4 separate regions of the Homo sapiens genome follow, and all the other regions are reported to be linked to region 4. The links are microRNA targets in miRTarBase. Many come from high-throughput screens and were not tested one by one. Region 4 holds a microRNA gene; each other region holds the end of a gene's coding sequence.

What was found. Region 4 holds the annotated microRNA hsa-miR-586 (UAUGCAUUGUAUUUUUAGGUCC, at 2,636-2,657, opposite strand). A microRNA usually pairs through its seed, bases 2 to 8, with sites in the 3' UTR of a target mRNA and lowers its output. Matches are read on the target gene's strand: a 7mer-m8 pairs with bases 2 to 8, a 7mer-A1 pairs with bases 2 to 7 and ends in A, and an 8mer does both.
Region 1: the mRNA of EHD3 is a reported target of hsa-miR-586. Seed matches in the 3' UTR shown: 7mer-A1 at 6,301-6,307.
Region 2: the mRNA of FOXG1 is a reported target of hsa-miR-586. The part of its 3' UTR that is shown has no 7-base or 8-base seed match.
Region 3: the mRNA of KCNJ2 is a reported target of hsa-miR-586. Seed matches in the 3' UTR shown: 8mer at 1,682-1,689 and 7mer-m8 at 4,197-4,203.

Annotation. Positions count from the first base shown.
Region 1 is chr2:31,265,994-31,273,118 of GRCh38, reverse strand. EHD3 (EH domain containing 3) reads right to left here. Exons shown (of 6, transcript NM_014600.3): 6 at 3,668-6,942. The coding sequence ends at 6,415. Among named protein-coding and RNA genes, the nearest start is that of EHD3, 35 kb to the right of the region's middle.
Region 2 is chr14:28,767,920-28,775,037 of GRCh38, forward strand. It overlaps FOXG1 (forkhead box G1), which reads left to right. Exons shown (of 1, transcript NM_005249.5): 1 at 1-2,358. The coding sequence ends at 830. It overlaps LINC01551 (long intergenic non-protein coding RNA 1551), which reads left to right and starts at 4,785. Exons shown (of 3, transcript NR_026731.1): 1 at 4,785-4,936; 2 at 5,441-5,514. RefSeq lists an enhancer at 6,372-6,871.
Region 3 is chr17:70,175,366-70,182,489 of GRCh38, forward strand. It overlaps KCNJ2 (potassium inwardly rectifying channel subfamily J member 2), which reads left to right. Exons shown (of 2, transcript NM_000891.3): 2 at 1-4,679. The coding sequence ends at 958. Among named protein-coding and RNA genes, the nearest start is that of KCNJ2, 9.4 kb to the left of the region's middle.
Region 4 is chr6:45,195,099-45,202,223 of GRCh38, forward strand. It overlaps MIR586 (microRNA 586), which reads right to left and starts at 2,672; the gene lies at 2,576-2,672. All of the region lies in intron 2 of SUPT3H (SPT3 homolog, SAGA and STAGA complex component), which reads right to left.

The DNA of each region.
Region 1 (7,125 bases), not on the chromosome of region 4:
CTTCCCTGAAGCATGCCTCTTCTAGCACATTGGCAACAAAACTCTCTCATGTAGAGTGTTTACATTGTTGGTGAACTTTCCCATCTCCTTGTTGCCTCATATCTCCAAATGTCTGAAGTGACCCCACTTGGGGAAAGAATAAACAGAGGCACAAAGAGGCCCCATGGCTTGTTCTGTTGGAGGAACTCAGGTCACCAGATGCCCATGCACCTGCTCCCGCCAGACTCTCTCTGTGGAGTTGGTGTTTTTCTGTGCTGACCTGCCCTCAGGCCATGGCTGCCACCACTACACTTCAGTGATGCGCCCTGGGGTGGGGAAGGGTACCCTACACCTCATGAAATTCTAAGGGAAGGACATAGAACTGCTACTTCTGACATGTCCTTATTTTATAGCCTCAACTGTCTAACATGCACATATTCATCCCAATTAATTCTTAGGAAGGGATTCTTGCTTTGAAAATTCCCCCGCAGCATTCTTTCTGAGAAACGCTGTCATGTCCTCTCCTATCTTCAATTATCTTGCAAAAAACCACCTCTGTGTAGTGTCCCAACCTGACCCAAACACACATAGAGATGCACAAACACACACACACACACACCCTCCATGAAGCCTCTCCTGCTGCAGCCTAGGTCCCCTCTGTGCAATCTGTACATGGCAGCAGTGCTCAGGCACCATAGGTAGGTGGGCAAACACAAAGTGGCAGATGGTTGCTTACGGTGCTACCAGTGTTGCCATTGTTTCTCCAACCTCACAAACAAGACTTCCAGCTTCTTGAGCAAGTATAGGAAGCTGCAAAGCCAGAGAGCTGCTGTTACAGCTGTATAGCTGCTGGGTCCACCTCTGGCATGATCTACTACAGCACAGTCTCCCACAAGTATATCTGGTTGGCGGGACCTAAAATCACATCCTGAACCTGGCTGCAAGGGAGTCTGGGAATTGTAGTTTTACTCTTTCCAACCTGGATATCTCCCTGTGTAACCCTAGGCAGACAAATACCCAGTCAATCCCCAGTACCTACATTCCTGAAGAGAGAAGGCAAGTCCTGTTCTCATTTGACACTGTAAGTGGGAAGTTCTCTAACTTAAAAAGTCACACTGAAGGGTGGAGCTAGGATATGGCAGAATACAACTCAGACACTGAAGGGCTTTATGTGAATCACCCATCCCTTCAGCTTCCAGTGACCTCAGTTCTTTTTTTTTTTTTTTTTTCTTTGAGACGGAGTTTCACTCTATCGCCCAGGCTGGAGTGCAGTGATGTAATCTCGCCTCACTGCAGCCTCCGCCTCCCAGGTTCAAGCGATTATTCTGCCTCAGCCTCATGAGGAGCTGGGACTACAGGCACGCACCACCATGCTCGGCTAATTTTTGTATTTTTAGTAGAGATGGGGTTTCACCATATTGGCCAGGCTGGTCTTGAACTCCTGACCTCGTGATCCACCCACCTCGGCCTCCCAAAGTGCTGGGATTACAGGCATGAGCCACTGCACCTGGCCAACCTCAGTTCTTAGGAAGGCAGGAACTTGGTTTCCAAGAAACTTTCTTTGCTTTTCACTTGCTTCATGGGCTAAACTATTGACAGACTTACCAGGTCTCTGGTCATGATGGTATAGGCTATGTCAGGTAACAGCCCCATGACTATCCATGGTTTAACAGTAAAATGATGGAGTTTATGTCTTATTCATGGCATCTGTCCAGTGTAGGTCGGGAAGGGGTTTTAGCATGACCCAGGACTTAGGCTCCATTTTCACACTCACTCCCACACACATTCCTGGAGAGGCAGGAAAAGTAGAATGTGGCAAATTGTACATTTGTCTCTGCGAGGAAGAGACATGTTGCTTACACACCTACTTCATGAGCCAAAGCAAGTCACACAGCTCGCTTACTTCAAAGGGAGAAAACCAAAGTCCTCCCATTAACCCGGGGACAGGAGAACCGACCTGTGGTAAACAGCACTAATGAGGAGTCTGTGCCCGTGACGTGCCCCTAGTGTACTCATCACTCGGCCGGGATAACTGACATTCTTCCATCACCATTTTTCTTTCCCTCCAGGCACTTAACATTTCAACTTTAAAGATACTGATACAATTTTCACTTGAAAATGGCCTATGAAAAAACAGCACAGTCCCCAGAGGCAAAATTCTAATCATGCTTTTCCACAAATACTTCAGTGGTTCTCAGTCTGTCATGATTTAGTGGGCTGAGAATGCTCTGTGTTGTGTTTTATGTAAAAATTCTGCCTGTCTTCCTTAGATCAGGAAGGAAGAAAACAGGCCCAAGAGGTTGGCCCCAGACGGTTTCTCAGTTCCAGTGCCCATCCTGCTACAGGCTTTCTCTGACCACCTCCTCCCCAGTTTGAAGCCATTTCTGACTTTCTTGAGCATCCCCCTTTCATGTTCCCTCACCGTATTATCAGTGTTTGCATAAGTGCCTCATCCCCTCTACTAGGCTGTGAGCTCTTTGATCCATATAGAATTGTCTCTACACTCAGGTAGACTTTATATTGAGTGTTTTTGAATGACTCAAGGAATGAATCTCTATATTCTCCCTCAGGATGTTTTCTGTAAGAGGTGCTCAGCATCTTTTGAATATAAAAAAGATCGATGGATGAATGGATGGAGAAATTAAATAAAGGATTGAGGATGTATAGACTCCAGACAGCATCACATAGGAAGAATAAACAAGCCTATTCTCTTCAGGTCATTCAGCAGATTCTGATGAGTTAACTCATAAATACAGGTTTTGGAACCAAATGGAAGTGGGGATGACTCAGGGCAACCACTCATCACTCTGCAAACCAAGGCCCATGCCCTGCTATGGTTCAGTGGTGTCATCTGGAAATATTCATGTAAATGAGCACCCCAGTTTTCTAAGAGCTGTTTTTTTCTTCCTCTCTTCTTTTTTCCATTTCCTGGATTCCCAACTTCCTAGGTAGCCCTTTAGAAATGCAAATATAGGCCTGGCGCAGTGGCTCTCGCCTATGCCTGTAATCCCAGCACTTTGGGAGGCTGAGGTGGACAGATCACTTGAGGTCAGAAATTCAAGACCAGCCTGGCCAACATGGTGAAACCCTGTTTTCACTAAAAGTAAAAAAAAAAAAAAAAAATTAGCCAGGCGTGGTGGTGGAGTACCTGTAGTCCCAGCTACTTGGGAGGCTGAGGCACAAGAATGGCTTGAACCTGGGAGGCAGAGGTGGCAGTGAGCTGGGATCATGCCACTACACTCCAGCCTGTGCGACAGAGTGAGACTGTCTCAAAAAAAGGGAAATGCAAATATAAGCTTTCATCTCCCCTTCACTAGACATTCCCTACAGGGCAAGTTCATCTCTCTGCTCCAAAATAGTCCTCCAGAATTGACTGCCAATTTGCAGACCAAAACATGCCCTCCTTGAGCTTTCACCTCCAGGGGTTGCCTTGGAACTCCCACCCTCCAGGGGCTGCCTCAGGACTTTCATTCACTAGGAGGTTATATCTAAAGTATGCCTACTTGGCCACTTTTAAAATTTATTTTTGCCCAGGAAGGCCCGACTCAACTGTCCAGTAGATAAGGCACCATGCTATCAGGCGGACCCTTGCTCACTTGCTCCCTTACCTTATAAAAGTGCCTGCTTTCTGCTCCAAAGGGGAAGCGGCACATTGAAAGGCAGGACGTTGTGTGCCCCTCCTCCAAGCTAGCTTTGGAATACATTCACTTTATTGGTATCAGACTTTACTCTTGTCCGTGGGACTTTGCATACATTGAGCAACTAACCCGCATTTCAGTTACATTCATGTCACACTTTGGTCATGATTTAGCTCTTTGGTACCAGGGGCAAGCTTTGCTTGGTCAGTAGCATAGGGTGTTGCTGTGTTTATTGGATGGATTCCATGGCCCAGACTGAGTAATGTCGGGGCAAGGAACAACAGGACAAGTGCTCTAGAAATTCTTGTCTGTGGGGCTGACATGACATGTCTCTGCTTTCCCTATTAAATGTTTCCTGGGCTGAGGCATGAGATCTCCCAGGCCCCTGAAGCCTGGAAGGGGTCAGAAAGCCAAGGCAGCAAGGCTAGAGGGCACTGCCAGGGAAAGTGACCCACATCTGTCCCCTCAAACATCAGTTCCTCTTTCCAGGGAGATGGGAGCTGTGCAAACATGGAATTCCCACACCTCACAGGTCTCTCCTGGGTGGAGACTTCAAGATGGAGAGAGGGAAGAGAGGCAGCATATGTAGAAGGGCAGGAAAGTGGCATGTGTGTCCAGTGGCAGTGAAGAAAGGGGATAACAGACATCTCCCTTTCCTATAAAATAAAAAGACAGGAACTTCACCTACCTCTGCTATTTCCTTCCCATTTCTCCTTCAGCTTGAAGAAAGGTGTGGAGTTGAGAAATGGTCCCTAACCTGCACTCGGCACTCAAGGGTTTTCTCCAGAGCAGGTGAGACCTCTTTGCCTGGCCTTTGTCTGCCCTTCATTTCATGTGAAAGAGAAATGTGTATTTGCAGAAGGAAGCCCAGGGGCTTAGGGAACATCTTCACTCCAGAGGAGCAGGGAGCGGTGGCTCCACCAGCTGTGCCTGGGTTGGTCACTGAGCCTAGACAAACTCCAGCCCACTGGGAAGCTGGTTGTGGATGCTGGCCATTGGGTGGCCCCAGTGAGCCCTTTCCAGCCAAAGATTTCACCAGGAACTCCAAGTAAGAACCCAGCCCTTCTCCCTCAGCCTCCATTGAATGATGCTCTGTGGCCAGGCAGGTACCAAAGAATAAATGTACTGTATTAACATGAAGACTAATGACAAATGCACTGCAGTAGTAAGCACGTCATAGATGCATAGAATATTCTCTATATAGTCTGAATATGGATATAAAATAAGTTATACTCATTTTGTTTTCCATCACAGTAGGAGCATAGCATACAAAGTGATTGGTTCAGTGGCCATGAAGCAAGCCAGGGGAGAGACCACAGAAGAGAATGTAGGGCATTGAGTACAGTGGGGATTTGCCAAGGACACTGCAGAGTCCCTGGGGACCCTCTGGGGAACAAGGCCCCAAACCTCTCAAGTTAGCCTTCTGAGAATAGTATGAGGTCCCACTTGACAAGAGACAGTGGCTGCATCTGAGCTGGGATGATTCAGGCAACTGGGTGGGAGGCAGAGCAGGGACAGGCACGAACAGCATCCAGCAGGCTAGCCCACTCTCCTGCTGGTGCTGTTGGATGTCTATGATGCTGGGAATATGGGGCGCAGAGCCAGAAGGCACGGTTTGCTTCTGTGACGTGACAGATGGCCAGACTGATGGGCCACCAAATGCTGGCCGGCCCTCCTCCCTTGCCAGCCTGTCCTGGGAGGCTGCAGGGGGCCTGCATACTTTGCTTGTTCTCCATAGTTTGTCATTGGGTATCAATGCTGGGATCCTGCATACATCATAGCACAGACAAGTGTGTGAGGGTCTGAGGCCCTGGCTTTGAATCCTCTCTCCATCACGTGACTTCTGTGAGTTTCAGAAGGTCGCCTAAACCCTTCTGAGGCTACTCAGCCTCCTCAACTGCAAAATGGGAAGGCTAATGCATACTTCCCTGGGGCATCAGTGAGGGCCACATAGAATAATGTATATAAAGTGCCTAACACAGCTCCTGGTACGCAGGAGGGGCTGGGTAAATGTGAGTCAAGTATGAACATCTAAACATCATAGGCCAGGTGGAAAGAACATCTAACAAAATCTATGAACTAAAACCACCTTGACTGGTTTTCAATAGACTACAGGACAATTTCCTCACTCTTATCAATTTTTTTCTCTTCTCTCTCCCGCTCTGGGATTCTTTAAAATGAAATACTGGCAGAGTTCAAAGCAAGGTTTGCCGAAGAAGACAGAGGCTTAGATTAGGAAAGAACAGAGCTCCTGGGCCAATGTCTCTAGAAGACGCTTCCTTTCTCACCTCTCCTCCCTGCAGCTGCCCGCCTGCCCTCAGATCTCCTAGCTCTTGAATGGATTTCTTATTAGGAAGCCAAAGCAGATAGGGGAAGCACAGAAAAAGAAGTGAATTGTCTACTAAATGAAAAGTCTTTTCCATTTGCTCAGAGCCCGGGTGTGGAAGCACTGGGGAATCTGGAGGTGGGTTGGCCATCTGTGCTGGCAAGTGAATTGCCTCAGGTCTGGTATCTGGGGAGTGGCCGAGGAGAGGGGAAGAGCGATAGAGACTTAGGCTTAGACTCTGGGGCCTGGGAGTGCTCTTGTCCTTCTAATCCCGAGAACTTGGAGGTGTGCCCAAACAAGTATCAGCTGCAAACATGGGCGTCATGGTCCTCTCTCACCTACAGAGCAATGTCAAGATATGCATATGTGTGTGTGCATGTTTGTGTGTGTGTGTGTGTGTGTGTGTGTGTGTGTAGTCACCGCTCCCATCTCCTCCTCTAACACTGCCCGTCTGAATGTCCCCCCACCCCATCACTCGGCAACTTTCCTCTTGGACGGGGGCAGGAGGTGGGCAGGCAGCTCGTTGGGCAGCTCGTGCCCCTCCAGCTTGACTTTGATGAGGTGGTTGGCCAGTGCAAACTCGTCGTCGTCCAGCATGCCATCCTTGTCAATGTCGGCCAGCTTCCAGATCTTGCCCAGCACACTGTTGGGCAGCTTGGAGCGCACCATCTCCTTCTTGGCATTAGCGCCTGTGATCTTGCCATCCACCGGTGACAGGGTGTAGAAGATCTCGTCGTACATGGGCTTGTCCCTGGCCACCACCCACTCAGCATCATCGATACCTTCTCCAGCCCCCTCCCCATAGCCATGCCCAAAGGGGCCGTGCAGGGTGCCCTCGAACGCTCCGCCCTTCACCATCTGGATGGGCCGCTGTGACTCCTCCTGGCGCACTAGCACCATGAGCTGGGCAATGTCATGGGCCAGCATGTCGTCCACTACCTCCAGCAGCTTGCTCTTCAGCGGCTGGAACTTGCTAAAGTCCTGGGCCTGCAGCTGGTCCTGGGAAGAGGAGGAGAGAGGATGAAGATAGGATACGATGAAAGGAGAGCCCTCCATTTATCACGTGCCTCCTATGAGCACCAGAATGTTCACAGCTGATCCCTTTCTACAATGAAAGACCTGTGACCTAGAGGCTCAGCTGATGGACATCACGTGGTAATCGAAGGTATGAGAGAGGAGGGG
Region 2 (7,118 bases), not on the chromosome of region 4:
ACTTCCCTTACTACCGCGAGAACAAGCAGGGCTGGCAGAACTCCATCCGCCACAATCTGTCCCTCAACAAGTGCTTCGTGAAGGTGCCGCGCCACTACGACGACCCGGGCAAGGGCAACTACTGGATGCTGGACCCGTCGAGCGACGACGTGTTCATCGGCGGCACCACGGGCAAGCTGCGGCGCCGCTCCACCACCTCGCGGGCCAAGCTGGCCTTCAAGCGCGGTGCGCGCCTCACCTCCACCGGCCTCACCTTCATGGACCGCGCCGGCTCCCTCTACTGGCCCATGTCGCCCTTCCTGTCCCTGCACCACCCCCGCGCCAGCAGCACTTTGAGTTACAACGGCACCACGTCGGCCTACCCCAGCCACCCCATGCCCTACAGCTCCGTGTTGACTCAGAACTCGCTGGGCAACAACCACTCCTTCTCCACCGCCAACGGCCTGAGCGTGGACCGGCTGGTCAACGGGGAGATCCCGTACGCCACGCACCACCTCACGGCCGCCGCGCTAGCCGCCTCGGTGCCCTGCGGCCTGTCGGTGCCCTGCTCTGGGACCTACTCCCTCAACCCCTGCTCCGTCAACCTGCTCGCGGGCCAGACCAGTTACTTTTTCCCCCACGTCCCGCACCCGTCAATGACTTCGCAGAGCAGCACGTCCATGAGCGCCAGGGCCGCGTCCTCCTCCACGTCGCCGCAGGCCCCCTCGACCCTGCCCTGTGAGTCTTTAAGACCCTCTTTGCCAAGTTTTACGACGGGACTGTCTGGGGGACTGTCTGATTATTTCACACATCAAAATCAGGGGTCTTCTTCCAACCCTTTAATACATTAACATCCCTGGGACCAGACTGTAAGTGAACGTTTTACACACATTTGCATTGTAAATGATAATTAAAAAAATAAGTCCAGGTATTTTTTATTAAGCCCCCCCCTCCCATTTCTGTACGTTTGTTCAGTCTCTAGGGTTGTTTATTATTCTAACAAGGTGTGGAGTGTCAGCGAGGTGCAATGTGGGGAGAATACATTGTAGAATATAAGGTTTGGAAGTCAAATTATAGTAGAATGTGTATCTAAATAGTGACTGCTTTGCCATTTCATTCAAACCTGACAAGTCTATCTCTAAGAGCCGCCAGATTTCCATGTGTGCAGTATTATAAGTTATCATGGAACTATATGGTGGACGCAGACCTTGAGAACAACCTAAATTATGGGGAGAATTTTAAAATGTTAAACTGTAATTTGTATTTAAAAAGCATTCGTAGTAAAGGTGCCCAAGAAATTATTTTGGCCATTTATTGTTTTGTCCTTTTCTTTAAAGAACTGTTTTTTTTTCTTTTGTTTACTTTTAGACCAAAGATTGGGTTCTAGAAAATGCACTTGGTATACTAAGTATTAAAACAAACAAAAAGGAAAGTTGTTTCAGTTGGCAACACTGCCCATTCAATTGAATCAGAAGGGGACAAAATTAACGATTGCCTTCAGTTTGTGTTGTGTATATTTTGATGTATGTGGTCACTAACAGGTCACTTTTATTTTTTCTAAATGTAGTGAAATGTTAATACCTATTGTACTTATAGGTAAACCTTGCAAATATGTAACCTGTGTTGCGCAAATGCCGCATAAATTTGAGTGATTGTTAATGTTGTCTTAAAATTTCTTGATTGTGATACTGTGGTCATATGCCCGTGTTTGTCACTTACAAAAATGTTTACTATGAACACACAGAAATAAAAAATAGGCTAAATTCATATATATCTTGATACTTTTGTCTCTTTTATTAAGTAGAGCTAATTTTTTAAAGACCAATCAACTTATAGGGAATTCAAAGGCTTTTTCAGCCAAACTAAAATTTAAACTGCTCCTTTAATTTGAACTGACTCTAAAAATGAAAATAGTATTTTTCCCTTTGTGAACAAATTTTACAAGGAGCAGCCTATTTAATAAACACTAGCTTTAAACAAAGTATAGGCTTTTCAGCTGATACCTGTAAGTTTCTGTGGATATACAGCAAAAAGAGATATAATTTAATTTTCTGTGCATAGCTCTTTACCCTGTGTTTATTTCCAAATCCATTAATAGAATGCCATTTATATATTTTGTTTCAGGTATATTGTTAATAGAGCTTGGCAAATTATAAATAAATATATGTATATGGTTAGATAGAAGTGACTATAATGCACACATATGTAATATATATAGACACACAGAGCCCTTCAGTTCAGGTACAATTTGCGCTATGAATGCTGCAAACATTTTTGTTTAAATATTTGTATTTATACTTTCTAAGTCAGCATTTATTTTTGTGGCTGTTTACCCACAATGAAAGAGTTCTAATAAAGATGTGCTGAAGTTGCAATATAGATTTTGCTGAAGTGATCACCTGTTTAATGACTTGCAGATCAATGTTTATATTTTATTTTAAAATTATAACAATTTAGAATTCTAGATATTCAGAAGTAAAATGCCTCTTTTTTTAATTTTTACAATGTAGAGGTATTTATTTGATTCCCTTTTAAATGTCTGTGTAATTCAATCTAGAGATTTGTTCCTTTTGTTTAGTCATAATTTTAACTTTCCATATGCATATGTATGCATATACTGTATATGCGTATATATGTGAGACAAAATGAAAACATTTTTTGAATTGTTTCAGGCAGCCCAATCGCTATAATTGCAGAAAATAATTAGAAAACCTTAGTAAAAGGTTTAGTAACTAATTGGATCCTGTGGTGAATCTGTGGAGGACAAGTTGTTCATTTGTTACAATTGTATAGTCTGAAATGTGTTCTGCAGTATTGGAATAAGCTGGTTACTTCTTACAATGGGCCCAGTGAAAAATAATCTGGCCCTAAGATGTTATCAGCAAACACTTAGACAGTTGCTCAGGGGGAGGAAAAAAAAAAAAAGCCTAAGGGAGAAGCAAGCTTACTGGAATAGATTTGAAACTGAAATGCTGAATACTTAATATTGGAAAATAGAAGGGGGTGGACTGTGGAGTGGAGAGAGGGAAAGAGAGAGAGAGAGGATCTTTATGGTGAAAAAATAATTACCACCAAAAAGAATGCATGAGAGAGAGAGACATAAGGTGAATGATAGAGAGAGAGAAAGGCCTAAGAAAAATATATAAGGGCCAGGAAAATTAAAAGAGCTGGAACCAAATATACACAAATGGGGAATGGACAAAAATAAGCCAAGACAGCTAGTTTAATTATCTCCTTTAAGCAATTAGACATGATTTTATTTTCTTAGTATAAAAACAGTTTCACCAGAGGTCCAAATTTTCTTGAAATTTAAGTTCTTCAGAATGAAGCATAAAAATATTTCACAAAAAATTATTGTGTTAAAAGTCAAATTTATGGCTGATATTAAAAATAGTAATAAAGTCCAAGTGAATGGTTTTATGCAAAGGAAATCCCCATTACACATTTTGAACCAAAATAGCTCAAAGAGAGACATGTGTCCAAGCTGAAAAAAAGGTGATGATTTATTGTTTGCTTTTGCCATGGATTTTATTTGTGGAATAAGAATGTATTATCACAGGGGAAACATAGAATTTTGCTTACCAAACGTTAAAAAGAAAGTTGAACTCTTGTGCTAAGGTAAAGGGGTATAGATATAGAAGAAAGTTTTCCTGCATGAGTATTTTTTTTGGCCACATTAAATAAGTATACTTATTTGTATTTATAAGTGTTTATTTGGGTGACAGATAAATAGAATTTTAATGGCAAACATCATACTTTGAAGTCAAGAGTAAAACTGATTTCTTTGAATTCATAGAAACGAAGTATTGGAGTGGGAGTTCTGCTTGGACCCATGTCCAAATTACATATAATGGATATGACTAGAAGTTTGTTAGGTGTACTAGACACGAAGGTGGATATATGGAGAGAGAACTTTGTAAAGGCTTCCTGAAGCCCAATATGAACATCTCATTTCCCTTGATCTATCTTATCATCCCTCAACTTATCTTCTCAAAAAACACATGACAGTCTGGCATGGCATATAATACATTTTTGCATCGAACGGGTTGTAATGTTGTGTTATTTGTTGTCTCCAACTTTGACCGTTAAAATTAGTTTATGTCAGAAATACACTTCAAAACTTTTGAGGATTATTTTCTTTCATATTATAATTGTTTTTAATAAGATGAAGGTTGTCCTTTGTGAAATTTTGGAACTGAAACTGATCACAACTTAAAACTTGAAATCCCAAATTAAAGTTTATTTCCAGGTTTAAAGTATTTTACTTGAATTTGTCTGTTGTAAAGTTAACAAAAAATATTAATATGTAAAACACTGAGAAAATGATGTAATTGAACTAGAGGAGTTAAAGTATTATTTCAAATATGTTTCTTCAGCCTGTTACAAAATTGGGAACCAAGTGAACATGAAGTCTAGAACTAACAAGGTTTAATACAAATATCCTTATGGTCATGGAAGCCTTCATGTAGTTTATGTGACTTGCATAAAATCAAAGGCAGAGAGGCAAAAATTTAGTCTCATAGTGTATTGATTTTAATATATATTTAAGTTGGTGCATATTTCACCCAAATACGTGGATAAATTCAATATATTTAGAAGTCTATAGAAGTGTAGTTTTTTAAAAAGTGTATTTTCTACAACATTGTTGAGGAATTTGCATGCACTGGGAAAATTTTGGTTTTGAGAAATTAATTTTATGAACAGCTAAAGTGGTTGGTTGTGTTTGAGACTAAAAGCCTGTTGGAGAATTAGACTAACAAAGGGTGAAGGTGAAGATCATTAGAGGTTTTAGAACTGGCTGAGATGGGTTGCTGGGGTTGTGTAACTGTGCCTAGAGGGCGGGGTTCCTGTACATTCCTACTTCACCAGATAACCTGCCCCCAACACCACTTCAGCTTCTGCCAGACAGATGGAACTCTCCAGCATGAAAATCTGCGCAGCCATTCCAACAAGCAGGGTAGGTGAAACTTGAATTAAAATTCTCCCCTCTTTATTTTTCTACTTAAGTCCAGATCCTGGAGATATGGAAAGAATAGAGGTCATCTAGATTCTCTCTTTTGGGCACACACGTCTGCATTCTTCCTAAGAGCTACCTACCTGTAAGAGTTAAAAGGTGCTAGAGATCTTTCCCAGTTAGTACTTCATGCTAGATTTTCTTTTGCGTGCATTTTTTTTTTTTTTTTAAGATTTCTTTTCTCTATACCAATCATTCCCCTTTTCTATTCTCCCTTCAGGGCCCTTTCCCCTCAATCACTAGCAGTTAAAATAACCCACCTCAGATTTTGGCTCCCAAAGGCACCCATTCCCCACCCTAGCGGTCAGTTCTAGGGACCTTATCCTGAGGATGTAGGCCAAGGGGGCTCCAGGCTGGCAAATAGATGATGTATTGTTATGTTTTGTGCCTCTTGTCTCCCTCCCGATTTCTACTGTGTTTTGTTTTTGTTTTTCCCCACCACCTAAGGCTCTGCCTGAGGTTGTCCGAAGGATGCCGAGGAAAAGGATATCAGGACTGGAATGGCTCTTACAGCAAGATCCGTAAGTGAAAGTGCTTTTCAGAGGGGAAGGGGTAGGGTAGGGAATATGTGTAACTGACTGCTTTGGACTGAGTTTTAACGCCTGACTTTGGGGTCCTGGCCTTAAGTGTTCATCTTTTCTTAGAAAATGTTAGCAGGCTCGCTACCAACAGACGTAGCTGAAAGGATGCATAATTTTTTTCCACGTTGACAGAAATCACGGTGAATCCCCAGGTCAAAAGGATGTAGACACGGCAAAGGAACATGGAGAGAAAACGAGAAAAAATTATACGGAGAAGGGGTAGTGGGAGACTGAAATAGGTCCTAAAGTGTAAATTAATTCATTTCGTGGAAATATGATTTCTGAGTCTTATGGTTGCTACAGGAACTTCCGGGACGTTCTTAACGCTCAAAGACAGGTTTATTAGCTATCCTTATTTCAGTTAAAGCTCTTTGCTCCAGAGCCAAGAACCTGCTTCTCTCTAAAGTTCTTCTTTGGATCGCCCTTCTCTATTTGCACACTAACATAGCCAACCTTCCCCAGAGCTGGCCCTCCGCCCCCAGCTCCTTGGCCTGGGTCACACCAGGGTCCCGGTCGGATTTAGCCGGGCTGCTCCGGGTCGGGTGAGGCACTGGGTGCGTGTGGGAGTCTTCTCTTCTGTCTCTTCGAAAGACTAGGGAAATGAACACCGTTCTGGGCTTGACTTTGTCCCTGCTGGGAATATCCCAGTTCCTGGCTTTGGAAATCTCAGGCAAATAATTGATTCTTAATGCACACTTAGGAGACGTCGGTAGTACGCTCGAGAGCCTCTCTGTCCCAGAGTGGCTGAGAGCACGCGCCAGACACAGGTTGGCTCGGCCCGAAGCGAATTTGGGACTCTCGTCGCGGTGTCCTATTAATTAGCTTTTCCCGGCGCCTCAGGGACTCCGGGGTGAAGATGGAGAGGTGGCATAATGGCGGGACTTGAAGTCGTTGTGGCAGGGACCTGGCAGCGTTGTTTTCTCGGGTTTTGAACCGGTGTGGAGAAGTAACTTCAGCTGCTGAGTTGGGGCCGCCCTGGCTGCGCGGTGGCGGAGGAGGAGAGGAGAAGCGCTCTCGGGACATTGCGGCGGCGATCCCCGCAGAGGGTGAAGCCGGGCGCTGCGCAGGGAGCAGCAACATGAGGGCGCTCTTGCCCAGGACAAGCAGAGCTGTACGTTTGGGTAGCTCATATTGGCTGATGCCAAGAAAAGTGACTTCAGAACCTTGGCTGGCGCGCTTCCCTACCTTTTCCCTTTCTTCTTAATCTTCTGTGTGCCACCACCTCCCCCCAACCTTTTTTCCCCTCCCAAAGTTGTTTCCTTTTGTTTACCCGGTGCGGTTTCAGATCTCAGCACTTCTCAGCTAGTAGATAAAATTATTTGCTCTGTAATGGACATCTCTTCTCCTCTCCACTTGTTACCCCACTCGCCCTTCGCTTTCTACCCCATTTTGCTTCTCTCTGCCCAAGCCTGTGGTCCAAGGTGCAGGGATCTCACAGGAAAACAGGTAGCCTCGGGGTGGGAATTCCCAGAGCACTGAAGGCGCCGGTTGTTGGCCAGAGGGAGGCCGGGACTCCGGTGGGCAGAGTACCCCGCGAGTGCGGA
Region 3 (7,124 bases), not on the chromosome of region 4:
CCATGGGGACCTGGATGCATCCAAAGAGGGCAAAGCTTGTGTGTCCGAGGTCAACAGCTTCACGGCTGCCTTCCTCTTCTCCATTGAGACCCAGACAACCATAGGCTATGGTTTCAGATGTGTCACGGATGAATGCCCAATTGCTGTTTTCATGGTGGTGTTCCAGTCAATCGTGGGCTGCATCATCGATGCTTTCATCATTGGCGCAGTCATGGCCAAGATGGCAAAGCCAAAGAAGAGAAACGAGACTCTTGTCTTCAGTCACAATGCCGTGATTGCCATGAGAGACGGCAAGCTGTGTTTGATGTGGCGAGTGGGCAATCTTCGGAAAAGCCACTTGGTGGAAGCTCATGTTCGAGCACAGCTCCTCAAATCCAGAATTACTTCTGAAGGGGAGTATATCCCTCTGGATCAAATAGACATCAATGTTGGGTTTGACAGTGGAATCGATCGTATATTTCTGGTGTCCCCAATCACTATAGTCCATGAAATAGATGAAGACAGTCCTTTATATGATTTGAGTAAACAGGACATTGACAACGCAGACTTTGAAATCGTGGTCATACTGGAAGGCATGGTGGAAGCCACTGCCATGACGACACAGTGCCGTAGCTCTTATCTAGCAAATGAAATCCTGTGGGGCCACCGCTATGAGCCTGTGCTCTTTGAAGAGAAGCACTACTACAAAGTGGACTATTCCAGGTTCCACAAAACTTACGAAGTCCCCAACACTCCCCTTTGTAGTGCCAGAGACTTAGCAGAAAAGAAATATATCCTCTCAAATGCAAATTCATTTTGCTATGAAAATGAAGTTGCCCTCACAAGCAAAGAGGAAGACGACAGTGAAAATGGAGTTCCAGAAAGCACTAGTACGGACACGCCCCCTGACATAGACCTTCACAACCAGGCAAGTGTACCTCTAGAGCCCAGGCCCTTACGGCGAGAGTCGGAGATATGACTGACTGATTCCTTCTCTGGAATAGTTACTTTACAACACGGTCTGTTGGTCAGAGGCCCAAAACAGTTATACAGATGACGGTACTGGTCAAGATGGGTCAAGCAAGCGGCCACAAGGGACTGAGGCAAGCACAATGGTTTCAAAGAAAGACTGTAAGCTCCATGATTAGCATAAAGCACTAACCATGTCTCCATGTGACCCGATGGCACATAGATGTTGTAGAATAAGTTATGGGTTTTTATGTTTTGTTTTGTGTTTTTCCAAAACTTGAACTTGCAGGCAAGCCTTGGTTGGGTATTTGATTTATCCAGAATGCTTCTCTTTAGGGAACAAGGATGTTTTTAATGGCATAACAAAGGCAAGACTCTGCCTTAATTTTTGAAAAGCTGCTAACTACATGAACACAAATGTGTATTTTTGTTGCAGTGTAGTTTTCCTTTTGTGTAATTTTAAAGTCAGTGTTGAATTTTATTGAAAGCTCATGATGCGCTTCAAAGTGGCAAGTATTTGGCTATTAACTGCCAAAACAAGAGCCTGATTTTTTGAGGCCAGTAATTCGTTTGCTAGAATTGATTTTTTTTCTCTCTCTCTTTGTTACATAAGGGCATTATGTAACACTAGCCGAATGGTAGCCTCTGGGTTGTTGTTTTTTTCTTTTCCTCCATGATGTTAATGGGTTATCTCAAATTTTAAGTTAAACTACCTAAAATAAATACCAAAGATAATGCATATTTTTGCACAGTGGAGCTTACACTTAAAAGAAAACAAAGCCCCATGGGCTGCCTTGAAATCAAGAGACAATAACTTTGAACCTCAGCAAGACCTTGAACCGCCGGTTCATTTTGCACCTTATTCAGAAAATAGAGCATCATACTCACCGAGTCTAGTCAGTGTAGTGCTTTTAAAAATTTTGTCCTTTCATGTAACTTTTTTATTTTAAGAGGAAGAAGAAGAAAGGGGCACACACACACAATACCGACGTCTATCCTTTCCTGCTAGGCAGTGCTGGCCAGGCTCATGTGTAGTGTGCGAGATGGTGATGTACTCTTATATTTTTCTGGGCTTTTCCTTTTGCACATTCCAAAATTCATTTCATAAGACAAGATCTTCATAGGACCTCCTTGGCATCCTGGCATTCTCAAAACTGAGCCATCCAGCATGAAAGATAAATGGGTTTAAACCCTTGCTGCTGAATTTATTGCCTGGACTGTCAGGACATCACCAGCCCACCTTCACCTTAGGGAAGATGCCACACCTGGCCTCCACACTTGCTCTTCTGATCAGTCTGTCTGGATTGAGTCCTACAGTGTCAGATAGGGCGGCAAATGCCAAAGCAGGGAAACAGGGAGGTGTGGACAAGCCAGTTTGATGCAGCACTTCAGATCAAGTGCTTAGGAAGGAGAGGAAACTTGCCTTTTTTATGGCAGAGGATAGTAATGAAAATGTCTCAGTATTTTAGGGTCAATGAGAGCCATAAAAATATAACATAATCACAAGTAAAGGAGATAATGGTCTAAAACAGCTATTTCCCTTTTCTGTGTGCATACTTATGACTGAATGTGAGCTAAGCATTTTCTCCTGTGGAGCCCTAGAGCAGGTTACTAAGGAAGGACACATTGTTTTCCAGAAGCCTCCCCTGCCTGGCTGACTGCCTTGCTAGAAACATAATTTTTTTTTTCTCACTGAAGCTCAATAATGGAACTCTTTTTTTTTTTTTTTTTAATTTAAAGTTCCCTATTTGTGAATTCTGGGATTACTGACTTTTCTTTTTAATTGGAGTCTCAAAATCAACTCTCTTATGGTATTATATCTCTGTATGCCATTAAAAAACAGCTTGTTCTAGAATCATGTATTTTGTAAACTGATGTTTGTGATGGTCTCTGGTTCTTGAACAGCCATATCTGAATGCCGTGCCTGCAAAACTATGACAATTTTTGCTGTTTTCAGCCTTCAGATTTGATGGCTTGGGAAACTGAGGTGTTATTTTCAATGAAACAAAGAAAGAGATGTTAAGCAAGTGGTTGTTTTAGATCCAAATGTAAAGGCAGGTTTGGGAAGGTGTTTAAAGAGTTGGAGGAATTGGGGATTGAGTTGTAAAGAAAACTTACAGAAGAGGCAACAATTTGGTTCTTGACAGTGAGAGGATATTGAGGGCTTCAGCTGCTGCTATTATGATGTTTTGCAAAGGAAAATAATCAAACCAAAGAGTATTCAGTGATATGTAAATTAAATGAAGATACAGTGGAGAATGGGGGTGACCACAAAAGAGGCTCCCCCTAAACACACAGTGCTGCCACTTAAAAAGACTTGAGAAATTTGAAAGGGGGTGGGTATGGGGGGGGCAAGAAAGAGGGAGGGAAATCTTTCAACTTATTTCTGAAAAAGAGAAAAAAATATAAAATTTCTGGTGCACAGGTTTGTTTTTTCAAGAAAATTTTGCAGAAGCTATGTTTTTAAAGTGTACATTTTATAAAGTTTATCAGATATTTTCATATTTAAAGCCAAATGTAAATAGAGGTCTGTAAAGAAAAATAATTGCCATAGAAAGTATAATTTCAGTGCAGTAATTTCTGAGAGCTAGTACCTATATGCTACCGGTTAGCATGGTTTTAGCAAATATATACCAGCCTTATAAGGTTCGTATTGCTATGTTCTTCTGTTATTTATTTCAGCATGGACTGTTCATTTGAAACCTTTTTCTAGTTATTAGCGTTTTAACAGTTACAAGCTTTAAATGGCAATTTTTTTTTTTTTTTTTTTTTTTTTTTTTTTTTTGTCAAGAGCCAAGACACAGGTAATGCACGACATTGATTGCTGCATTTTACCTTCAAAATATTTGTCCTTATTGACTGGGTCTCCTTAATTAATGTACACATGTCATTAGAATGCAGACGGAGGGGACTCACCATGAATATCTGGGGTTGATTCCCAGATGTGTGTTGCTTCTCTATTGCAAGCAGATTCCCTGTTGGATTTACTTCGGATTTATTCCCTTTTAAAGAATTTTTGCCCATATCTGGAAGGGCACTATATTTTTGGGAGGAGCCATAGATTCCTGGTTATCCTATTTTTAAACAAAATGTAGACAAAGTGAACTCTATTTTGATTATTGAGAAAGGAGTAGTTTTCTATCCCTCTAAGAGTATACTTGAATCAGACATTTTAAGGATGTCACTATGGCACTGTTGTCATTTCCAAATTCCTAGAAAAGTTTGTTTTACTTTGTTTTTATTCTGTTAATGCATTCTTTCTTCTCTTTACTTCCTTTCTTACCAGTACACTCCTATCTCAACTCTGTTTATTTGATGAGTTCTGTCCCGTAAATCATATTTCCCTTACAATTAATAAATGTCACTTCATATTTTATAATAAACCACTCAGTAAAAGCAAAAGCTTGTCCTGAGAAGTAGAGTGAGTTCTTTTTCACTCTGTGTCTAATAATGTTAAGGTGGGAAAAAAAAAAGTGTGGCATAGCTACCTGCCCATCCCCAACCCTCAGCAAAGTAGAATCTCTTTTCTGGTAATTTTGGGTTTCCGCTCTGGGCTCTGGCAAGTTGAACAATCCTAGCCATTGACAATCGTGATAGTTATTATTTTCCCATTTGCTGTCTTTTTGTATCTAAAGTCTTCCTATTGTACTGCACAAACCATGGATTGTACATATTTTTATATATTATGTCTTATTTTATTATTTCTAAATAAAAAAATTAAAAATTGAAAACAAATTCTTGGAAGAATCTTTGGGCTTCCCGTATGATTACTCTAGAAACACCATAAAGCAAATGTTCCCAAACAATGGAACATAAACCCTGATAGGTTAGATGCATAGAGCCATAGAAATGGCCTCAACAGACAGGTGCAGTGGGGTGACAGATTAGTTTAATTCAAGTTAGAGGAAGTCAAGCTCATATTTTGTTTTTGGATAGAATAGGCTAGGTAGAAAGGGAATACAAAAGACCAATAAACAAGCCAAAAAAAAAAAAAAACTAAGAAAAATATTATCAAGTTTAGATTTTGCTTCTCTCTTTAATGGGTGATAAGGTGTAGTTGCTCTTTATCGAGCCTCAACTATGTGTAGAGTTCTTGCATTACATATTATTTTTATCTCATTCCCACAGAAACCAAATCAGGATATTATTATTTTGTATTATAGACTAAGACTTGGCAAATAAGTTCTGTAAAGGGCCAGGCAGTAAGTATTTTTTGGCTTTATGAACCAGAGGGTCTTTGTCTCAACTATGCAAATTCAGCCTTGTAATGTGAAAGCAGTTACAGACAATATGAAAACAAATGGTATGGCTGTGTTTCAAAACAATTTTACTAACATCTACAGCCAGTGGGCTAGATTTGGCTTATGGCCAGTAGTGTGTTGACCCCTGTTTTGGGTGAAGAAACTGAGTATGAATTTTAAAGCTAATGAATCAGTGAGGTAGTATTTGGATTCTGGTTTTACCTGCATCTAAACCTAGTTTTATCCATTAAACTATATATCATTTCAGGTCACAAAGCTACCAAGGATATGTAGTCCCGCCACTTTCTCTGGCAAATTTGAAATAAATAAATGTTTCTCAAGGTTGGAAATACGGAGAAAATTTGCATTCTAAAATATGGGTTGCACCTTGCTCTTTTTTCTTTAACTAATATGGCAATTATTATTTATGTTTCAAATATGACTCTAAGTCCTTTCTAAGTACTAAATAATTTAGTCTTAACAGCAAGTCTATGGAATAGGCTGTATTATTATCCTCATTTAAGAAATGAAGAAACTAAGGCTCAGAGAGGTTAAGCACCTTGTCCAAGTACATATGGGAATTATTAGTGCTGAGATTCAAACTGAGGCCATTCAATACTAGGCTGTGCTTTTTGTGACTACTCTATGCGCTTTCTTTTTGTACATATTCTTGGTAAAAGCTTCACCATTTAAGACCTTTCTGCTTTTCAGTTTTTATCCTTTTCGGTAATGAAAATACATCCTTTTTGTTTGCACAGCATACGTTAGTGCAGAATTCTTGCCTCGTTCATAACTCATTCCTAAATTCCTCATTTAATGTTTGGTGAGAGAGAACAACTTACAAGGAGTAGAGTAATTACAAACACTGGTTGTGGGATTTGGGTAAATTTCAAACTTAAGATTAATTTCAATTAACAAGGAATTGTTTAGGTCTGTCTCCAGGCGAAACCACAAAGTTCTGTTACTAACCAAGCTGCAGGAACCCGACCACATCCACACTTTTGCTTTCTGCCCATGGTAGGCAGCCAAAGGTGTAACACAATCCTCTGGGCAATTGAGATAATTAAGCCAGACCGGTTATGGTAACGCCAGGCAGTGAGTTGCATGCTATACAGGCCTCTATTTTTTATTTTATTAAATACGTATACAAAAAGAAAAGGCAGGGGTGGAATTTCAGAGTCCTTTTGCTTGGACTGTCTTTTGAGTGACAAGTGAGGCAAGACCTCCAAGCTCTAGCCTTCAGAAGCAGCAGCTTCCCAGGTCATACTTGCAAAGAAAAAAACAAATTTCCATCTAGAAATATTCATTTTCAAGCTAGCAAAACTGATTAAATGAATCGTATTTGTTTGCCCAAATTTGAGTGAGTGAATAAATGCATAAATGAATAAAGGATGGCTAGCTCTATGTCCTTTAAATGAAGTAAAGAACCAAGTCCGTGATCAGCTTATTTCAGGACCTCAGTGTTTCTTCAGGATATTTCAGACCATGGAGCTAAGTGACCTAATGATTAGTCACTATCTGAGGGTTGTTATAATGATTTTATAAAAAGAGAAATATCTAATTACAAGGTAGTACCTGCAAAGCACAAGTAGAATAAGAATATCAGAGTGCCTGGCTTAGGAACTGGGTGTCCAACTGTCCTGATTTGCCTGGGACTCAGGGATTTTCTAGCGTGCAAGACTTTCAGTGCTGAAACTGGAAAAGCTCTGGGCAAACCAGGGGAGTTGGTCATCCTCCTTTGGAAAGTAGAGAAGTAGAATGGCTGGGGGAAAGGGGAAGACCCAGTAGATAAGAATTCGCAAGGGAGGAATTGAAGCAAGGTAAACCAGAGGCAGCACGTGAGTGTTACTAAACAGAATAATAATGGTGAATAATTACTTAGGAAGTGGCTCTCTCCAACTAACTGAAATTTGTCACCTCAAGGGCATTTTTTTT
Region 4 (7,125 bases):
AAATTGGCTTTTTGTGGCAGGATAATGGAAAAGAAAGAAGGGACGTGAAATGAGGCTAGCTTAATACAAAATAATGGCCAAGTGATGCTATGATATATTATACAATGGTTTCATAATAACTGGAACAGAGAAAAGTCACAGGAAATTGTGTTTGTTATCTTACAGAAAAAGAGAGCAATGATCAGAGCTTTCCAACCCATGCCCTTAGGAACAAAAGCCACCAACTAGGTACAGGTGTGTAGGTTTTAATGCTCTCAGCCTATGGAATGCCTGACTGGTGGGACCAGAGGCATTTAGGAACCCCTGAATTGTCTGCTGTCAAGAACAACCTTGTGCTTCTATATCCAGTGGCCCTATGAATATTATCATTTTTCACTTGTGCCATAATGTCAAAAGAATTGCAAAGCACTGGGAAGATGTAACAAACTTTTAGAACACAGTAGTCATATTAAGAAAGGGAATTTATTTTCAGGAGTTAAAAGTCTGTCATATCAAATTAAGGTTATTATTTTGATTGTGATATGATCGATTTGTTTTTCATTTCTGATTGTTTTTGACTTAGTAGTTTCAATAGATTTAAATGCAATGAAGAATTGCTATCTAGATTTTTATATTTGTTCATATTTCAGTAACATCAGCAGAAAAATACTTGAAGTTAAAACTAGGGTACATATTATTTCTTTTCCTCTTTTAATAGTATCTGCCCCAAACATAAGGTGAAAAACAATTGGATTCATGAGTCTTTAGTTTGAATCTCACTGAGGTCGGTAGTTACAAACTTTCTGATCCCGGGCAAGTTACTTACATCAGTTTTCTTATTTGTAAGATGGGAATAATGATCATTCTTACCCAAGGAAGGAGAAGATTCAACGCCTATGAAGTGTATATGCCAGTAGCTGGCATATAGTAACAAATATTTACAGGTTAGAAAAGTGAGCTGACACTAGCACGCTAAAAATATATTTCACATCTATCAAAATATACTTTTAGTTTAATTTATCCAATCTACCATAGATAATACACAATAGATATCTGACTTTATATCTGTGACAATATTCAATCATTTTAAAAGGGGGTAGGGGGCAGATATATTGCTTTAGAAGTACTCCTACCATTCTAAAAATACTGTCCCGCAGCTGTTTAAAATTTATTTTTTTAGACCATAGCACCACTGTTTGGTTGTTTCCAATTTCTAAAACCACAAATAGTAAAAGTGTACTCAGTCTACTGCAAACATAAATAGCAAATGCACGCTTCAGCACTTTTTAAAGGATATGGAAATTGGCAACAAAAATGCAGTTCATGTTGAAAATTTACGACAGCCCTGCCATATTTCTTCAGAAATACAATCAGGTAAAAATTAGGAAGATCTCTACCAGCTGGGTGGTATTTTTGTGTTTTTATACTTATATTTTCACTAACTGAAAGACTTTCATTATGCAATTTCTGGCACTTGATAAAATAGAGCAATAGTACCTTTGCTAAAACCACAGTTTCTTTGGTTATGTTTAGCATTACACAAACATCTTTCACCTTAGATATCCTTTTGCATTAGAGTGTTTAATTTTAAATTGACTGAAGGGAATAACTTTTTTCAGAATATTATGCTTTCTGGATATCACTAAGCACAAGAATTGTATTTTCATGATTTCTCAAAGATCATGTGTATGTGTTTCAATTATTAGGCATTTGGTTCCATAAAAAGTGTGACAACTACTGATAAAAGATGAGAATACAAAAATGATTCAAGAAAACATGGAGAAGATTGACTTACAGTGTTGCTATATTATTTTTTTAAAACCCTGTCTTTATAAAATACGTAAAAAGCCACAACATGGATTTACCATCTCTTCCTTGGTAAAGATACATCTAAAATAACACATCCTCAGCTTCTGAGGAGAAGAAAAAAAAATCCCTGGTACAAAAGGTTAACATAAAAAATAGTATGCTAAATTCAACAGTGGAGGAAGAAGTTTCGTTTTAAGACATAATTCTTCAATACTCATTTCTCATTTTAATATTAAAATTGCTACTACATATTTAAATTGGTTTTAAGTATCAGAAATAGGAATAAAGATTATTTTTTAATATTTTGATGCATCCAATAAAATTGTGTTCAATTAACACTGAATGAACAAATAATCAAGTAAATGGAGAGAAAATGTCACTTGATCATTTCAGATTTTTTCATGAAATTTTTAAAATAAATGACTCAAAAACTCATGAACAATAGTTCATACTATGATCTAATAACTTAAATGATTTGAAAGAAAAATAAATCTACCAAGGAATTTTTAAGTGGCTCCTGTTTTACATGGTGTTTCTTCTTTACATACATTGTTACTAAGTGCATTTAACCAATAAACATTTTTCAAAGATCAGTTAAATTATGCTATTTGGTTGGATGAATACTTCATATATCCTCTATAATACATGCTTTTTAAAACTAATTAAAAAATAAGAATTCAAATTGAAATATGCAATGTAACAAAATTAAGGTAAACTATGAGAAAGACAAAAGTTTTGTGGTATTTGCAGAAAAAAATTGACAATACTATTTTTTCATTTACATAAAATAAGAAGATAAAGAGTGAAAAACCATTATGCATTGTATTTTTAGGGCCCACATGTATTGGGACCTAAAAATACAATGCATAATGGTTTTACCCCATGTCTTTTAATAAGAATTTGACTTTGTTAGATAATTGCTTTTCTTTGAATTTACAAAGTGTAAAGTGAGTCTAACTGCCATATTAATCACCAAAAAAACCCAAATTACATACAACGTAAGAAACTTAAAGCTGTATTTCTCATCTGCAATTAGCATCTATTCAGACTGTAAACTTACAAAAGCATTCAGATTTCTTCTTACTCTGAATACTGTTTAATAACCCAAACTTGATAATGTTCCATCACTGCATTTCTAGAAATAAAAAAATCTCTCAAAGTTCTCAACTTATCTTTTGGTCTGCTGAACAAGATATTATCTGAAATGTTATATGCTTTGAATACCCATTTTTACTTTAAAATGATACTTAATCATATCTTCTTAAGAGCTGGTCTAATCAATATGAAAGCCAGGCAGGAACAAAAAAATATTTTAAAAATAGCTTTTCAAAATAGGAATACATATTCTAGTGATGCAGTTTTCTGATTTGAAACAGGATCACTTTTACAAATACTGAGTGTCATTTTGTATTCAACAGCAGCAGAAAAAAAAGGTATAAATGTCTACCTCATTTGCTATAATGTAAGTTCTTAGATGGAAATACTGAATTAAACACTGGTGGCTTATGGAACACACAAGCCTTGCAATTTAAAACTAGAAACCTTCCTCCTAATACTTTGTTATATCTTTAGGTTAAAATATTTGTTTTCTTAATTAACCATAAGAAAACAAAGAAAAAGAAAAGAATCAGTCCCAATACATTAATTTGCTGAAATTTTCACTTGTGAAAACAAATCAAGTTTCAGAACTTGGGAATAGCATATAACAATGAATCAATGTCTCATCTGTAACAACGACACAGTTAAAATAACTTCTTGATATAAGTTAATTTTTAAGAAAATTAGTTTGATCCAGGGTTATTTATAACAGGTAACATGAGTGGTTTTTGACTAAGCTGCTATATCTTTCCTTGAGTTACTCTGAGTTAAGTCACACTACCTGAAGTTACATTTGGAACACCAACATCTTAATTATTATCATGAAATAGCTACCTATTATTTTTAAGTAAATGTACTAACTTCTAATCATATCTGTTATTTTAAGCTTTGAATAATATGAAACTAAATCATGTAATTAAGGATATAGAAAAATGCAACAGAATAGCTTTATAACAGACCAATTACAACACTTTATTTCCCATACTGTTACTTAACAAATATCTGTGCTATTTTATAACATTTTAAAATCTTAAGACTAGAAATAATTACATCTTTTACTAGTGCTTATAAGGGCTGTTGTCATCTTTAAAGACACAACATCTTTAAAATTAGAAATGCATACAATTTTATATTTCAAAATGTATTAACTCAAAGACAATAAAATACACCTATTTCTTAAGATCTATTTTAAAATACTGTTGTTGCATTGGATTAAATGTATATATGTGATTAATGAATGCTTCCAATATAAAGATTTAAGTCTATTTTTCCTTGCCAGAAAAAAACAACTCAGCTTAATTTTTAACTATTTTATTATACCCTTCAGAACTTAAAATTATATACAAATAATGTAACCTGAGACCTGCTCTGGTCATCTGAGGAATTACAATTAGAGCATGAATCTCCACAATTCTGCAGCACCTTAAGTAATTTTATAAAAAAAAGTATTTTTTGCATATTTCTTTAACTCCATTAAGATCATTTCCTGGGCTTCTTACAGTGAAAAAAAAAAGTCATTTGTTTTAGAATAAAGAATACAGCAAAAATACTTCGTCATCCAAAAGACTATTTTTCCTACACTATGGTCAGGCAACCAACCCCACTAAATATAGAAGACTGACATTTGTAGGTAATTCAATAGTCAGATGATAATTCTTCAGTAGTTTCACAGTAGCATAATTTTTCACATTACTTGAAACCACTGTTAAACCTATAACACATTTTCTGTTTCTCTGTGGGTATTTTTTTCTGTCTTTAACCCTAAAAGGAATATGTTTCATCTGACAGCAGTACAAAAGCCATTCATAATTCAGAAATGTTTTCCTTTTTTGCAATCAATACATGACTTTGAACTCAGGTTTTTCAAAGATTAGTTAAACATTATGTTTCTTTAAGTCTAGAGCCTTATTTATGTGAGTCTGTGGCTTAACTGACAAGAATTTTTCTGTTCCAAGGAAAGTCAGTCAGTTTGTATCTGAAATACTATAATCTAGCTTCCGTCCATATAAACATCTGCAAAGACTCACTCAGTCAAATGTTATACACCCCATCAACCAAATCAGAGACTGTAAGAATCATTATTCTGTGCGACAGATAAAAATCTTCTGTGCAATAGAGAAAAATGAAAAGCAAAATGATGAAAGAAAAACATTTATAATTTTGAAAATTAATTAGTAACAATACTCAGTGTAAATATTTGTTAACATTTCTTATTCAATTCTACAAATGTTTAATAAAATCCTAAAATGTAAACATAATGAGTGCTGTATTTATATGTTCTCTAATTGTATTATCATACAAAATATTGTTTGTATAACTGCCATATATATTTTGTCTATTTCTAGTAAGTTACCATTAAATGAAAGTTAAATTGTTCAATGTTGAATGAAAGCAAGTATGACTTATTACATTAATAAAAAATTAACCCATGATCAAAATGTCTAAAGTATATCCCATTTTGATGCACATTTTAAAAATATTAACAAACTTAACAAGATCCTAAAGCCTCATATTTTTTAGGTGCAGCTGGTAAAAAAACTAACAGATATCATATGCTAATAGTACTTATGATGTGCAAAGTACTGTTTGTAAGCACTTTACATTTTTGAACCTTCTTAATGCTCAGAACACCTTTCACTTTAGAGACAATAAAAAATGAAGCTCATAGGGGTTAAGCAGCTTACCAGAAGTCACACAGTTATTAAGTGACAGTTTGGTTCCAAAGTCCATTCTCTTTAGGCCTACCCTGAAAAGCATCACTGTAATATAAGATTTTTTTTTAATTTGAAAGAAGAAAACTGTGGTATTCACTGACATAATGCCTAGAACAAATATGTCAAATATTCTTATTTGAGGATGCTACCATAAACTTTATATAAATTACATACTGGTAATAAATGTACCTTATTTGTAATCATTTTCATTCAAAGTAACAAAATCAAAGTTTCTCTCTTGTCAATTTGAATTAAACAGTCATGTGTACAAATATACACATAAGCACCTATGTATTACTTCCTTATGGGAACAATACGAAGATTTCAATATAAACGAATTTACTAAAATCAAGCATAAAAATATTTTCTGATGATTAGTAACTTACATAATAATTAAGTATACATGTTAACTTGCATTTCATTAACCAAAATTTTAATATTTAAGCTTAAGTGAATGATACGGGTAACATAATCATTCATTTTATTTGTAATGTGAACTAAAAGTTACCCTTTCAACTGTCTTATTTTTTAAAGTTCAGTGTAATCCTAGAGTTTAACATATGAATTGGTAAATGCAAATAATCTCATACTGCAACTTGCCAACTTAAAATGCAAGAATTCATTTCTAATTGGTTGGTTTATTGCTCACTCAGAAAATTTTTATTTCTTTTTCAGTGAATACTGTTTCACATTTGGTAAAATACAGGAAGTCACACCACCAATGGAATGCGATTATCTATAATGAGAGTTAGTTATTCCATATTCCCATTTTTAAAAATAAATTAATATATCAACACACTCTGTAAAATTTATATAAACTTAAAAATACTAGTGAGCTGAAAGTGGAAAAAAACATAATCGGAATAATTTCATAACATGCATAATCATTCTTCACAGAATTTTTATTACCCAGTATGGAATGGATTATAGTAAATGTACTTCACACATGCTGTTTCTTATTCAAAAGGAAACACAGAATAGGACAGAGAGAACTTCCAGCCAAATCTTCATTCTAATCCAACAGTCATGGACGCCACTGTAATTGAAAGACATTTCCAAACAGATAGCTGTGGACCCCATTTTCCTTTAAAATAATATGTCTTTCACATCTGTTCCAACTAAAACATGTGTGTTCTTAAAATTTACCAAACTACCTTATGCTTAGTTTTTAAAATATTAACAGTTTTATATTGTTCTGCTTAATTTGCAACTAGTTAAGCCCATAAAATGTACATTTTCAAATTATGTTAACATGTTAAAAAGTAGTAGAATATGCACGACTAATCAACATTTTACATCTGTGATTTCCAAAGTTAGGAAACCTCAATTGTTTTTCACTGACTCAAGCAACTTCTTAAAATGGTACAAATCATATATTTTGCCATTATAATATTAAGGTGACTTCATTTTATTTTCACTTTGAATATCTTCCAAAATAAGAAATCCAGCTCTCAAAATCAGGCATCAAAAGCAATACTATTAACTCTTTTGACATACCCAATAATTGGAAATTAAAAATAAATCA